2 separate regions of the Homo sapiens genome follow, and region 1 is linked to region 2. A link means that fine-mapping ties the variant in region 2 to the expression of a gene that starts in the linked region. Tissue or cell type: testis. Region 2 holds a variant in brackets; the other region holds the start of a gene. All regions are shown on one strand. Distances are from middle to middle.

Region 1 (8,000 bases), 580 kb before region 2:
GATATTAATTTAGAGAGTGGTGAAGGTAAGTGGTGCAGAGTTTGGGGTGGGGGCATGCTTTAAATTTGTGCTTTTGAGCAAATGCAATTAAAAGTTTGCCTACTTTTGTTAAACCACGTTTTACCATTGCAGACTTCAAATTCCTTTTTAACAGTGTGGGTACAACTTGGTTGATGTGCTTTAAATTTCTAATATTTAAGTTTCCATACAGTAGTTCAGCAAATACATTTATTTTAGTCTACTGTGTGGCAAGCACTATACTGGTCGGTGAGACCACCTGAAATCATAAAATACATTGTTTTTCATGTCCAAGCAGGGTATTACTTAAACCAGATGAAGAGGAAGAAAATCAACAACACATAAACTGATCAATCCACAGTCCAGTGGCACACTTTAAAAATGGTTTTTAACCAAATGTGGTCTGTGGGTTTTCTCTTCAAAGTTGCCTCGGTAACTTGTGCACATGTAAAGTGAAAGAATAAAGAACAAAAGCTGTCATTGTCTCATCGAGTGAGAGCAATTTCTCCCTCCTTTGATTTAAACAGAATAATACCTGCAGAAAGCTTTTTATACATCCCTGACACTTGATTTTAGGGTAGGAAAGAGATTATGCATATGCAAAACAAATGAAATTTTAGCTTTTGCTTAAATTATATTCTATTGCTTTCTACTTAAAATCTGTTTTCTCTGGGGTTTTCGTAAATAGATAACTCAAAGTTCTTTCTTACACAACATAAACATAGCTTTGAAAACTGTCTTTTAGTGTGATGTTTAACCAAATTGAGTGATGTCGATCTGTATTTTGAAACTGGAAAATACTTTTTGAAATGTGTATACCTATTTTCTTAAGAGGAAGAATGCTGTTTCAGAAGACCAACTCTTTGTTGGAAATTTATTTGTTGACTTTCAGTAAATTTTTGAAATGGTGGAATGTTAGAAGGAGCTGAGAAACATCCCTTTTTATGCTCTGAAGAGAAAATGCAGTTTTGAGGATTAATATTGCTGAGAGATTTTTACTGTAGAGTTTTTGCCCACTGGGGGGTGGTACACTCTACCAGAACACTGCTTTCTGAAGCCGCAAGTCAGATGTTGGCTGCTGCTGGCCAGTTTTTCTCTGGTTTAATTACAACAAAGCCTCCCGTTGAGAAGAACAGTGAAGGCCTCTGGGGCAAAAGGTGGGGGGTGGGAGGGAAGGGGGAAGGAGGAAAGACGGAGGGGAGAAATTATGGCCTTTGAAAAATTACTGAATCTTATTTCCATTGTTGACTTTATTTATGGTAGTCTTCATTTGATTTAAACAGTTATTTCTAATGCTTTTTTTTTTTAAATAAATGGGTTTGAATAAAAGAATATATAAGGGGATCTATTCAGAATTTTTAAGTTAGCTCTGGATTTTGCCATTAATCAATCACATTCTTTGTTATATAGCCCACCCACCTTAAAAAGAGGCATAGAAGTTAAGAAATGACTGAAATGGCAACTATAAACCAATACTTTTTCATTGACCAGATTTAATATTGGTATGAACATTGGCATATCAAAAATGAAAAGCAAGAAAGAAGAAACATTAATATATTATTAAGACAAGGCCAATTCCCTGCACTGATTTTTGTAGGGCTTAAAACTGTTCAAAATAATCCAGAAAAAGGAGGAAGCCTTAGGGTGTGTGGCCAAGAAAAGCACAGAAAAATCTCTCTGCAGTGCACTTGCATGTTTAAAGCTGATTATTGTATTTTTCATCTAGAGAGACTGAGTGTTCATTAGGGTCTTGTGTCCCTAGGCAGGAGATGCTGAGCATAATTGGAGTTTCTATTTGATTGGGCAATATAGTCTAGAGAAGAAACTGGGGTAAAGATAATTAATAGCTTGCTAACAAAGTCTGACAGCCACAAGATTTCAACCAAATTTATTTCACACTGCTTCATTTAGCTCTGAAAAAGTTTTGATAGAATTGTAGGCTCCTTAATTAACACTTGAAAGCAAAAGAAACATACCTTCTATTTTGCTGCCACATTTAGTTATGACAGATTTTCTTACTGTTTTTCTTCTTTTTGTAAAAACTTTATTTGCTATCCAATTATATATCTCACAAACGTTATGTTTGGGAAGTGTTTAATTGTGCATTTTGAACCCAGTCATAATTGATTTTAAAGGGTGGGGTGCAGCGAAATGAAAAACCCAATTAGTAACTGGTAGACAGTTTTACAGAACCGCAATATTAATGAATTCATTATGTTTATTCATTCACTAATATTTTGCTGATCCTTGGACTTGATGTGTTTTGGTTGTGCTCTTCAAAAAATCAAATTTTAGTTTTCTTAGTAAATCTATGCGTTTTTGTAACTCTGTTTTTATTTCAGGGTAATAAATAGATGTGCGTTTGTCTGTGTGTATATATATGTGTCCAAACTAAGGGGCATATCTCTGATTTAATTTTCCCATGGTAAAACCTGGCATATTATCATTAATATTTGTAGTAGTTGGTAATGTTGATATTATTGATTGTGGCACTTTTAAAGGATTAATTTTTCTTTACTCATTTCGGAAGAGATGAATATTAGTCATCTGTCACTTTGGGTCAGGTATAAGTGATTCTCCCTGAATATAAGCAAATTTATTCTTTATGTTTAGGCTGGTCAGGATATTTTTATGCAGTCAGAGATAAATGAAAGGCATTGCTACAGCTGAAGGACTTTTCTAGTGGCTTTATTTATGTTGTTTCTGGATAATAAAATAACATAGATGAGCATTTTAGACAGATTTATTAATAGACAGATTTATTAAGAATGTTTAAAATAGCCTTATTATTAAAACCATTAGAGATTTTGGACTAAAAATTGAAAAAAAAATCAATTTTTTTTCTTTTAAATTCTAAATAAAATAATAAAAACAAACCCCCCAGATGTTGAGAAGACATGGATGGGCCTGTTGCACTCTTTACCTATATGCAACCATTTTGTTTCAGACCTAATTCAGTGAACAAAATTTTTTGAGAAGATACATTTAACTACTTTTTCAAGCTTTGTAGTATAAATGCATTTCTTCCAATATAAGATTTTCCTATTATAAGTTGCAAAGAATGGATCCTCTGCAAAACCCACTTGATAAGGGCTCTACTCATTTATTTTTCTTTCCTGCTACCCCAAACTCACTGCATACATCAGGCATAGCTTCCAGGGTGAGCTTTGTTAGTTTTTCTGAGTAGACTTAGCCATTTACTATGCTAGTCACATACTTCACTTGCCTAAGCAATGGATTTTGGTGTTCTATTGAAGAGGGAATATGGTTTGGAAGAGTGTCTCCCCCTCCTCTGAGTTCAATTTACTAGTTGAGATTTGCAAGCCTGAAATGCTTGAAGCAGCTCAGGCACGATAGCAGTGCAAGCTTTAAAATCTAGGTGTAGCTGTTAATCCTTTACAGAGGCACATAAGTCTCCAGGAGTAGCTCGGCTAGCTGTGAGCAAGATGTATGCTTTTCATGTACTGCGTACTCATGGGCTGAGGGATTATTGATTTTCTTTCACAGTTGTAAAAACAGCAATTGGTGATCATCCCACACGTACAGTACACACCAAGTTGCTTTCCTATCTGTGAAGAATCTCCTTGTATTCTTTAATATTTAACATTGAACTTTCCAACTTGCTGTTTTCCATAAGGCTCTTTTCACATAGCAATTACTCAAGACAGAAAATAGCCACTTACTATCTTTTATAAATGAAAGAAGGTTCTAAGAAACTTCTTACATTCAGCCATGATAGTGAAATTTTTCATTGCTGGCTTGCACGCACATATATTGCTTGTTGTGGTGACAGAGCAAACGTTCCTATTTGGATTTCTCATAGTATCAAGTCGTTTCTTTCTAGAGAGTAAAACCAAGCAAACTTTCTGGGACAATCATAAGAAAAAACATGGAAAACACTTACCAGGAAGACGAGAAAAAGCAATCCTATATACACTGCCGCTATAGCTGTAATTCCATTGACAGTGAATTGGAGTAATAGCCCTCCCCCGTCTCCCAAGCTCTGCGTCCAGTCCACACAAAGCCCACGGCAGCTGCAGGCTGAGCTTGTCCTGCTTCAGATCACTCCTACACTGAGGAGTGAGCGAGGGAGAGCATTCCAGTTTACTGCACACAGCCCACCTCCAAGTCTGAAGTTTAAAGCTTCACCTCGCAGTGGCTGAAGAAGGGGGTGATGTCATAGATGGGCAGGACTTAGCCAAGATCTTGTTCAGTGAGGTAACTGGATAATCAGACAGATGAGCTTTGCAAACGCTAGAGGGGGCGAGAGCAGCCAAAATGAAGCATCAGCCTGCCAAAGCTAGGATGCCATTTGGTTTGTAGGCAGCCCTTTGGAATCTCAACATTTTCTAAAGTTTACTACAAGGCAGTGGTAGCATACTTATGTATTTTTTTTAAAAAGCATGTTAGAAAGATATTTTTAAGATCACAATAGAAAAAGACAGGCTTTGTCTTATTTTTAAACCATCTGTATTGAAAAGAAGTTAACCAAAATCAAATTAGTTTTATTATTCACTAGCTAAAATAATGTTATAATTGTGGAAGATGTATGCCAGTAATCCCAACTGTGAATGTTTATTCAACATATGAATAAACAGCAGATTCAAATATATACATCAGGGCTGGGTGTGGTGGCTCACGCCTCTAATTCCGGCACTTTGGGAGGCCGAGGTGGGAGGATCACCTGAGGTCAGGAGTTCGAGACCAGCCTGACCAACATGTAGAAAAAATTAGCTGGGCGCCCGTAATCCCAGCTGTTTGGGAGGCTGAGGCAGGAGAATCACTTGAACCCGGGAGGCAGAGGTTGCAGTGAGCCAAGATTGCACCATTGCACTCCAGCCTGGGCAACAAGAACGAAACTCCATCTCCAATATATGTATATATATACACGTGTCACTGATTCATTTAGTTATGGGAAGGGCAATAGGAATGCCAAAAGATTTTTTTAAATGGTATTAAATGGTCTGTTCTTTTGGAGGCGAAGAAGTTACTGTTCTCTATGTTTTAGAAAATGAAAGTATGTTTTATGTACTTCTGCTACGTGTTTATATTATTTAAAATGGATTATTTATATTTAACGATCCCCCAATAAAATGTTTTTAAAAAATTTAATAGAATATTTTCCTTTCTAAATGTTTTTGCTGATCTGAGCATGGGTTTAGATATAAACATCTTAAGAAAAAAATCTTTCAGGGTGGTTTGCCTGGATTGAAATTATTTTAGTTTAATTTAGGTACATGAATAAACACTGGACAATTGTAAGACGTGGAGATTATAAATTTCTATGCCTAATTAACAGAATTATACTTGTATTTTTAATTATGATTTTTGTAGACTGGTTTCTGCTATTTGGTCAACAATTGCTTTGTGCCCGTAAGTTTTCCATCAAATAAGTGTATTTCACTTGTTCATGTTGGTGGTAAGAACTTAGCTTTTATATTTACCTGGAGGACCGTTGTCTTAAACTAATATCTTTATTTGCTCTATTCTTAGAGGTGCATGACCTTCTCCTTTGTCCTTTCTCAATTTTTCCCTGCATGTTTATTTCTGAAGAAGGCCAGCTAATAGTCTTTCCCAGGACTATTTGATTGTGGTCTCTTCATTAGCTTCATTTAGTTTATCTATTTATATATTTGTTTGATAACAGTTTGACCTGAGTTCCCTTCCAAGAATGGGTGATATCAAAGTAGGTGAACCCTTGATAAGAAATGTATTGACCCTATTGTTCTATGATTGCACTTTTGTGGGCCTCAGAGGACAGACCCATTAAATCTAGGAGTTTTAGATTCTAATGTCCATTGAAAAGCCAATTTCTTTGAACTGCTAGGTAGTACAATTAAACTGATATGCAGCAGCTGAATTTTGGGAGGAAAGGGAGGTGGATATTTTTCTGTTACTATGAAACAAAGACATGGATTAAATTATTTTATTAAATAATTATTTCTAGAAGCCATTTTCAGATAGGAGTTGGTTCTGTTTAAAAAAGAAAATTTTTGCCTGGTCAAATTCCTGTGGGTTTATAGCCATATTTAATCAGTTTCGTCTTCATTCAGGCAGGCCTTAAACAGAAAAGAAAAATCAATTGGTGAATTGGGTTATAGGTATCAAAAATAAATTGTACTGGCCTGGGAGTTAGCAGTTTGGAGGTTTCCCTTCTCTGGGCTGCCATTGTTATATGACTTCATATTTGTTGCCCTAGGCTTTGGTTTCATCACTTGACAAATAAAGGCAGCAAGGATTTATTAAATGCCAATTATTTTTTGTTGCTTTTTTTCCCCTTTTAAGCTATGGATTAAAATATGGGAAAAGAAAAGAAATTGTGAAAATATATTCTATACTGGGGTACTGACTTTGGGGGCAAACTCTTAGTAGAATCTGTGGCCTCCTATTCTGTCCAAAAATATATACTCTTTTGCTGCATACATAGTTTTTCACTTCCCGCTCTTATCAGCTACCTGAAATGCTACTAGTTGAAGGTGAATTTATAATAATGTGTGCCCCCTTTGAAATAGTATGTACAATCTCTGGAAACATGAGGTTATCATGAGTTACTTCAGATTGCCCTCCTCTTTTGTTTTCTAAGGCACTTTGGCTACAATAAGGGGATGACTGTTTTGATTGAAGGGGATGGAATGCTGGCAATCTTTAGCATGAAACCCTTTTGGCTGTAATAGGAAGGGAGGAGGTGGATTCTCATATCAGGAAGGACTTGGCTCAGGGTAGAGGACAACCAGTGTAGTAGACCTGGGTAGTTTAAGAACATGGGCTTCAGAGATTAGCACAGCTGGGCTCCATGTTGGCTTTGCCACATGACTGTAGACAAATTACTTAATCTCTTTGAGTTTGTTAGCTCAGTGCCTGACTCATAGTAAGTGCTCAATAAGACGATAGCTGTCATTATTTAAGATGGGGGACATCCAAGCACCTGGAACAAAAAGGACACTAAGAATGGGAGAAGAATACACAAAGGGAGGTAGTACAGGGCCAATAACAGATTTTTGGAATTTTTCAAATTTCTCTTTGAAGTAATTTTACAGTCAGTAAATGGAAGTGGAAAAGAGGAATAGAAGAGCATTTCATTGATTTTTTTTTTCTCTTGTACTTACACATCTCATGACCTCATGTTCCCAGAACTTAACACTTAGTTGGGTTCTAGTAGATATTTTGGGTTGAAAAGATGTTTGCTGTTTTGCATTTTGTTCTGTTTTGTTGGCTAGCCTGTGAATCTAGCATTGTACGTGAGAAAGTGCATTTCAGATTGAAAGCAACTGGTTTGGAAATGAACTTCAATAACATATCCCAGTTTTAAAACTCTAGGACTATCTAAACTTGTCATCTCAAAGGACTTTGTGGTGTTCTTTGTTTGTTTTTATGAGAAAATGTGAGATGTTCACTAGTGGACATGAAAGTAGATTGGATTTGGAATTGGGTTTCCCAGGTTCTGCCATTTACTTGTATATCCAGACAAAAAAATGAAAAACAACATACACACAGAAGCCTCAAATCTGTCTTTTAGTTACCAACTACCAGCTGAAACTGACTAAAACACACAGTCATTTCATGGAACAATACAATTCAGGTCTGTCTAGAGTTAAGCTACCTCATTCACACATTCATTCATTCAGTCTTCACATTCATTTATTCATTCATCATATACATATTTATTGACTCCCTGTGTAAAAGAAACTAGTAGGACTAGATGATCCCCAAACTATCTCCAACTATGAAGTTCTGAGATTTAATCTTAGAAGACATTAAGGTTCTTTTAAGCCTAAGAAACATTCTTCATGATTTTCCTTTCCCTCAGCATTCTTCATGAGAATAAAATCTTCAAAATTGTGTAAAGAAAACAGTTTGGATGGGCGCAGTGGCTCATGCCTGTAATCCCAGCACTTTGGGAGGCCGAGGCGGGAGGATCACCTGAAGTCAGGAGTTTGAGACCAGCCTGGTTAACGTGGTGAAACCCCGTTTCTAGTAAAAAT
Region 2 (8,268 bases):
AGGTTAGCTTTTGTGTGACATCGGGTCTCTATTCTTCCATGTATTTAAGCTCAAAATGTTTCCTTATGGGGAATTTTCTTAAAAGTCTTCAATATTGTTAACTCTTTGAAACCACTGCTGTGTGAAGGCAGCTGATTGTTCCATTGTGGGTCCCATAGGAAGAAGTTCTATGGTTCCTCCTTATTGCCTTCTTGGTGGGCATCCCCTATGAAGCAATGCAGGGAGGACTCCATGATAGTGCAGGCACTTGGCCTTTGATTTCCATCCAGGGAACTCCCTCCACCTGTCTATGAGAGAACTGTGTTGTGGAAGCTCACCGGGAAGCCTATGGAAGACCAACACATAGAATGGGCAGAGGAAGACAAACCTCCAAAACACACCGACTACAACAAATACAGGACAACAAACAGCAATAACATTGAGAATAGGAAGCTCATCATGGAGGAGAACCAGGACAGACATCCACGAAACCCAAAAGAAGAAAAAAATTCAAGAAAGACTGGTCAATTGCATCTAAAGCTACTCAGTGACTAAAAAAGATAAGGGCTGGTTGTTGTCCTTTAGTTGGTGATTTAATGAAGAGCCATTCCAGGGAAGCAGTGGGGGCGAAAGTCAAATTTCACTAGGATGAAGATGACAGACAGGTAAAGGAGGGAAGAGAGTAACTGTGTAGGAATTCAGCAGCAAAAAGGAGAGGTTTGTGGTCACAAGGGTAATGCGGTATACGGAAGGATTTTGTTTTGTTTTTGTTTTTGAGACAGGCTCTCGCTCTGTTGCCCAGGCTGGAGTGCAATGGTGCAATCTTGGCTCACTTTAGCCTCGACCACCCCAGGTTCAGGTGATCCTCCCATCTCAGCCTCACGAGTAGGTGGAACTACAGGCACACACCACCATCCCCAGTTAATTTTTGTATTATTTTTGTAGGGATGGGTTTTTGCTATGTTGCCCAGGCTGGTCTCAAACTCCTGGGTTCAAGCAATCCACCTGCCTCGGCCTCCCAAAGTGCTGGGATTACAGGCATGAGCAACTGGACTAGAAAAGGTTTTTCATGATGAGAAAGACTTGAGTGTGATCAAATGCTGATAAGAAGGGACCAGAGAAGAGGCAGAAGTTAATGATCCAGAAGAGATAGGAAGTAGCTGCTAGAGAGAGGTTGCTTAGAAAGAAGGTAAGGTACCATCCAGGCAACCGGAGGAGGGATTGGCCTTGGCTAGAAGGATTCCTCTCACATTGGATAGGAGAGTAGGCATATGCCATGGTTTGCATGTAGGTCAGCTGGCACAGGGTAGAATTGTTACTGCTTTATTTAGTAAATGTATTCCTCTAAAGTCATCTGCAATCATATCACATTAGCCCTTTTTGTGACACTGTGTTTTTTTTGTTTTTTTTTTTTTTTCTGGAGTTTATTAGCAAATGAGATTTCATTACCAGCTCCTGCTAAACAATGTCTCCTCTATCCCACACTTACGCATTTCTGAAACCAAATTCAAGTCCTAACATTTATTTTCACTGAAGGTCATACTATTAGATTTAGATCATGTTTCCAATTTGTCAAAATCTTTTTATATTTTAATTGAACTCACAACATATCACTGATGTGTTTCAGTCTTGTGTTACCCATACATTAAACAATCAGCTGTATGTATGTCTTCATTTAAAGAACTGTCTTTAGCTCTATTTTACTTTTATTTCATCAACTACTCTCTCCCCCAACCCCCTGAGACTCAAGGGAAGAAGAATTAAACTGAATGCTTTGATGATAACTGATAAAGCCTTTTGTCCTAAGGAGTCCTCCCAAATTGGATTAAGAGGATTCATTTGTGTTTTGCGGTGTTTATATTTGAGGAAGACAAGGATGTGAAAACTCTCACTCTCTCTGTGTTCATTCTCACAAATAGATGGATACCGTCACTTTTCAAGGCTTGTCCATCTGGAATGCATCACAAACACATTGCTGGGAAAGTAAAAGTTCCAGAAAGAGCTTCGTTTTCTCCTGGAACTGTGAAATTGAGTGGCCTAGTTCTCTCCTCCATGTTGTTGTAAATTCACAGGAGTGTAATATAAGCTACATTTTTAACCATTTGGGATAGCTTATGATTGAATAATGCTTCCTGCCAGACATGTTTTCCCTTTATTTATCACTTACTTTTCTCTCTAATTTCAGCAACAGCAATTGCTGATTATGAAAATGACTCTAATTGTTCAACCTTTCATAACCACATTTAACTACCAAAAACAATCTATCTGCTACTTTGAAAAGCAGTTAAACAAGCAAGCAATTTATTCCTGCCTTCTTGCAAGCAACCAGGAACAGGGCCGTGTTCTCTTTGTTCCTTGTACTGCTTTGGAACCATGAGTGCCTCTTTCTAACTTGAATCAAAATCTGCTTGTTCCTAACTGCTGCCTTTGCAATCAGTAATTTGACTCAGTGGGCTTAATTCAAAGCAGGCACTCACATTCTTTAGACTCTTTGTCAGTCTTCCAGGAAATCAAGTTGAACAACAAAAACAAACAAACACCGGCCCTAAATTAAACCAGATAGGGAGGAAGAAACGTCAATGAATGATGAAGCAAAATAACAAGAGTCAGGAGAAATAAATAGAAACCATTTCAAGGCTCCACCTGCCGTGGCCCCATTAGCCCCTCCTTTACCTCCCTTTCCTAGAGGAAATCAAAGCAACTCCTATGAGCAATCATTCTAGTCAGCTTCCAGACTTCCAGAGCCTGCTGAATCTAGCTCCTCCCACCCTGCCCCCAGCAGGTGAGCACACCTGGGATCGCTGCAGGCTGACATTGCATCGTGATTTCTCTGCATCTCAAACAGCCGGCAGCCCTGCAGAAACCTCTTCCCCTTGCTGAGATAAAGTATATGAATTAATTCCCTTTTGAGTTAACCCGCGCCTGGTTCCTCTCAGTAACTACTGGTACTGGGATAGAGAAGGAGTTGGCAGCTCTCTTAGAAAACCAGATAGTTTTCCTTCTTTGTGATGTGCTCAACTTTCTTTTGCCCCAGGCTTGAAAATACATGCCCTGTCTTTAACTTTCCTTGTGTGAATAACCAGGGCTCAACAAGGTAATAGTTGGGTAAAATTGTTACAGAGGCATTCCAAATCTAAAACAGAGATGTTCCCTGGTAAATCTGATCTTATCTAATGTTTCCTAAATGTAAATAGGCCAGAGGGTGTTCCTTTCTGAATACCCTTTAACCAGATACGTTGGAAATCTATTATGTATTGTTTATTTTAATTTCGTTAAAAATGTTCTCAGGTTTGAAGTGTGATTTCTTTGCGCTCTCATTTAATTTTTTCTTCTTTTTAGAATAAATTATTGAAGACAGAACTTTTTCAAGGTATTTATAGATATATCTGAGGTATTCATGATTTATATAAAGTGTACAGGTGAAGAGTTACCTTCTAGTATAGACCTTAAGCATGTTATCATAGCTATGTGCAATAAAGGTGATATTAAGTTTATTTAATATTGCTACCATTTCTTCTAATCCTTGAATTTTCTCTGGAATAAAGCTGCAGTGTAATGAATGAGATTAATAAAAATAGAAGGGTTATGTGTAACTGGAAAGTGGGGAAATCACTTTGTTCATTTATGGTAGAATATTTAATTGAGGTTCCTCCACACATTCACATTAGGAAAGTCACTTGGTCTTTAGGTTTAAAAATAATAATTTAACTTCAAACAATCCTTAACTCTTCAAAATGTTTAAGGAATTAAGGGCAAAAAAACCTAGATATGTTCCACAACTTTGGTGACAATAAACATGAAATATGGAATCCAATTTTTGAAGAATATAGCCAGTCATCCCTTTAAACCACAACCATTTTTACATAATGTATAGAATTAAAAAACACTGGTGAATCAACTCTGTGCTGTGATGTGTATTACCAGTCTATTGGATCTGTGTATTGGGTGTTTGGGGAGCATATCGACATTATGGGCAATGCAGTTATTTCCCATGACATTTTAAAAATCCATTTCTGTATTACATATTCCAATCTAGTGAAAATTACATCTACTCTATTTAGATTTGGCATCCAACACTTGTTGGCCATGGCATGTGATGTAATTTAAACTGCTCATGTACATTTAGGAGGAGATTGATTTATAGCCGTCTTTGCCTGAGACAAGCACAATTTAAACTAATTCTTATTGATCCAGAAAAATTTAAGATTGGTTTTGAAAATTCTCAAGAATAGAGAGTTTTGGATACATTTGAGCCATTTTGCTAAGCATAATTGTCATGTATATAAAAGCATGAAACTGTTAACACTTATCCTTCTTTGCCTTGGCGTCTTTGTTAGTCATTGCATACCTAAAGGCTAATTTCTGCTCCAGATGCTGTGATGTCTGCCCAGCTGGCCCAGCTGTTAGGATATATGCTATTTGCAAATGGCAGCATAAATAGCATATCCAGAATATTTTGCAGGCTGGGGCTTTGCCATTAAAGGCTAAGATATATTTAGTGTCAGGGATAATTGTTTGGTATATTGTAACC[A/C]GAATGGAGCTGACAGAATGCCAATAGGTCTAGCAGAGTGACTCATAAAATAGTCCAATGAAGAAATTATTTACTCAAACATTTCCATATTAGCATGTAATGTGCACTACAAATTGGATTTCCTGTGAATGTACAATCATTGTGTGCAGAGTTTGTAAAGGTGTCTGATATTGCAAATGTATCATTTAAGAAGACCAAATTGCATCAGATTCTCTAACCAAGTCTCTTTTAGCATCTAAAGGAGTAGTTCTTCTAATTATTTTCTGATTGCAGGATAGCCTTGTTGGAAATGCTCAACTTGGAGTTGGGAAGAACTGGGTTCTAAATTCTAGCAATTTCTATGATGACCCGGTGACATTAAACAAATCTCCCATCTTTCCTAATCTTTTCTATTTCTGGTTTCTCAGTTTATAATATTGAAGATACCTGCATTTTAACTGTTTTTGTGTTTTGTCAAAGAAAGGTGCTTTATACATAGTCTAGGTCTATTTGCTTTTCAACTTTTCCCCAAGATCTTCTGTCTTTAGATGTATAGTTTTTTCCTGCTTTTTTTTGTATGTATCTGTTTTTAGCTACCTAGGTATTCATAAGGTGATTAGAATGCAACGGTTACATGGCTTCTTAACCACCCCTAATTTAGACAAGCATTTCTAAGTAGGACTTCTAATATTCAAGGCAAAGAATATTCTAGAACTCAGAAAGTTTGCTTTTATATTCCAAATTATTTTATTGTTACATCTAAAAAACAGTGGTGTCTGCCCTTATCTGATTCTGGATGCTGCTAAAATATACTGCTGGACAGAAATTTGATTCATTAACTTTTTTGGATCTTAACCTTTTAAAGGTGCAGTATGTCCATTGAATCTACAGCTTTACCGAAGCCCTTGACAAGGCACTGGTATCCACAAGGAAAGGCGAATGTTGATATACAGTGACTGGAACTGATTTTTATCAATGTGGATGGTACCAGACTAAGAAAATTATCCATCTGGGCCATGCAATCTGTCTTTCCAGAAAATCACTGAACTACATATCTAATAACACAGTCAGTGAGATAATTTCCTTTTATTGAGTAATTTCCTCATTTGGTAGGGATTTTAAAAGCCTAGGGGCATTTTGAGCATATGGTTCAGGAACATTATTTTAAAATGTGAATTATCAATAGAATTTCAATACAATCAAAGTAAAATAACTTACTTCCTAAGTGTTACAAATATAAGCAGGATATTTCTACAAAGGCTGTTGCTTTTGAGTCAGAGTTAGGAGCTGGAGATTAAAAGCTTTTCTTCAGCATTGTTAGAGCAGGGTGCATCATTCTCAATTGCCAGCGGTCAATTCTCTCCAGACACAGTTGATCGCTCCTCCCACATGAAACAATTTCTTCACTTGAATTCCTCCAACCTCGCTGGCTGTTTCTTCCCAATCTCTTTTGCTGGTTCCCAGTTGTGTCACTCCCCACTCATTACTGAAGAGCCCTAAAGTTCAGTCCTTGAACTCCTTACCTATCAACAATCATCCTTGCTTATCTCAGCTAGATTCCGGGCTTTGTATACTGATCAATTACAAATTTGTATCTCCAGCCCAGACTTGTCTGCTGAATTTCCAACTTGTACATTCTGCTGCCTACTCAGTATCTCCACTTGGATTTCTAGTAAACATCTAAAATGTGTCATCTCCAAAACTGACTTTCTAATTTATCACAACACTTACTTTCAAAAAATACATGCACACCTTCTGTAGTTTCCTGCCTCTTAGGTCACAGCAACTCTATTCTTCCGCAGTTCAAGCCAAAATTTTCGGTGATCTCCTTGACTACCCTGTTTCTCTTACTTTCTCTATAAAGTCTCTTAGAGAAAATCTTGTTAGTGCTACCTTCAAAATATCATGGTGTGAGTTCAAGCAATGTACTTTTTCTTTTCCTTGCATACTTACTCCAGTGGTCTACCTTGTTGAAATATCTAAGATAGGTGACGGCACGGGCCTCCAGGGCCACTCTTAATTATAGGCCTTGTGCCTCAGGGTTTCCTAGGCTGGCGGTGCGTTGGGGGAGGGGGGGGCGGCGGGGCGGGGAGGGGGTGGAGGGTTGGGAAAGAGAAGAACCTCCATAAAGGTAGAAAATGATTCATCTTATATTTCTCTGCAACTTTTTCACCAGTGCTCAGACTGAAAAAAGATGATGACTGGTGGTCATTAAAAAGTTAATTTTCCGTTTACGAGCAAACCTTTTTGGGTCTTTGAGGTCATATATAGACCACGATAAGCAAATTATCTTATAGATTGTATCTATTTTCAGCTGTTATAAAAGTGTTTTAAATTAGACCAAGGCTATTTTTAGTTTTTGGAAAGTTAGCTTATAACAAAAATCTTGCTTTTTCATAAAAAAGTTAAGCATATTAAAAAACAGAAAAATAATACCATATGGAAATAGAGTTGGCTGGGTGTGGTGGCTTGTGCCTGTAATTCCAGCACTTTGGGAGGCTGAGGCGGGTGCATCACTTGAGGCCAAGCCTGGCCAAACATTGTCTCTACTAAAAATACAGAAATTAGCCTGGCGTGGTGGTACACGTCTGTAATCCCAGCTACTGGGAAGGATGAGGCATAAGAATTGCTTGAACCTGGAAGGTGGAGGTTGCTGTGAGCCGAAATCATGCCACTGCACTCTAGCCTGGGTGACAGAGCAATACTCTGCCTCAAAAAATAAAAATAAAAAATAAAAAATAAAAAAAAAGAAAGAAAGTAGAGTTAAATACCACAGATATAGGAAGTCTAGACAATATCAAAGGAATAAGATGATGCGATTTTGAACTAGGAAAGGGTAGATGAGAGCATTTATTTATCTAAGATCTTTTGTATAGATAAGCAGAGTAAACAATCACCCTTATATATGTAGCTCTTTAGTCTGCACCAAGACACTGTCCAAGTGGGAAACAGGGAGACTCAAGCAAATATCCTGTTGGTGTTGTCTCTTTATCCTACTTTAAAAAACACTAGGATCTGGACTGTGAAATCTGAGAGCAGTCTCTGAAGAGACACAGATGAAAGTGAAAATGCTGCTCTATTTTCTATCACCCAATTTCTTGTCACAGTTACTATCATTAAAACATATTAAAAACATGGAAAGGGCTGAAAGGGAAGGTACAAATCTAATAAGATTTGTAATATAAATAACCCTCAGTATGTTTTTATTCCCGATTGCCTTGCCTCCTTAGGTTCTGATATTTAAAGATTGGGTTAAATATCTCCTTTTCTGTGTATAAGGTATTGGCACAATTTTTTTTTTTCTTATTCACTTCTCCTCATCAGGCAGGTGGTTGAAACTACGTAATGCTTGTCTTTTATGGCCATTTTCAGAGAGAATCATTTTCACCAGGGGACGATCTCCTGTGTTTTTTGTTTTGTTTTGTTTTTTTACCCTTTTCTCTCAATCTCATCTCAAAGATAAATGGGAGTTAACAACTCTGGTTAAGATTATGCTCATTTTCAAATGCTTTCTTTATACTTTTTAGCCTTCCATAATATAAATAATATTGTGGTGCTATTGTAATAACAAATCCAGGAAAAAGAAACACCTTACTGTCCCAGACTGATCTTAGTTTCAGAAAACTCTGCCCTCAGATAGTGGTTATACATAATACTTATCCACTGCACCCAATCACCAGGGTGCTATTTTGTAATGAGAAGTCCAGAGAATTTTCTGAAGGCATGACTTAATCATCAAATTACCAGATTTTAAAAGGCTGTTACATGTTTCTATCTCT

Alleles and levels. Positions count from the first base shown, and alleles are read on the strand shown. Sizes are in standard deviations (SD) of each study's normalised expression.
In carriers of allele A in region 2, the expression in testis of the gene that starts at base 4,131 in region 1 tends to be higher than with C alone (moderate effect, 0.63 SD a copy in GTEx).

The links. PIP is the estimated chance that this variant, and not a neighbour inherited with it, causes the effect.
Region 1: it holds the start of FLRT3, and the variant in region 2 is fine-mapped to the expression of FLRT3 in testis (GTEx, PIP above 0.99).

The regions. Positions count from the first base shown.
Region 1 is chr20:14,333,482-14,341,481 of GRCh38, forward strand. FLRT3 (fibronectin leucine rich transmembrane protein 3) reads right to left here and starts at 4,131. Exons shown (of 3, transcript NM_198391.3): 1 at 3,923-4,131. The region is part of intron 3 of MACROD2 (mono-ADP ribosylhydrolase 2); the gene reads left to right.
Region 2 is chr20:14,917,237-14,925,504 of GRCh38, forward strand. The region is part of intron 5 of MACROD2 (mono-ADP ribosylhydrolase 2); the gene reads left to right. All of the region lies in intron 1 of MACROD2-AS1 (MACROD2 antisense RNA 1), which reads right to left. Among named protein-coding and RNA genes, the nearest start is that of MACROD2-AS1, 8.1 kb to the right of the region's middle. RefSeq lists an enhancer at 2,205-3,054. The variant A/C (reference allele first, on the strand shown) is at 4,511.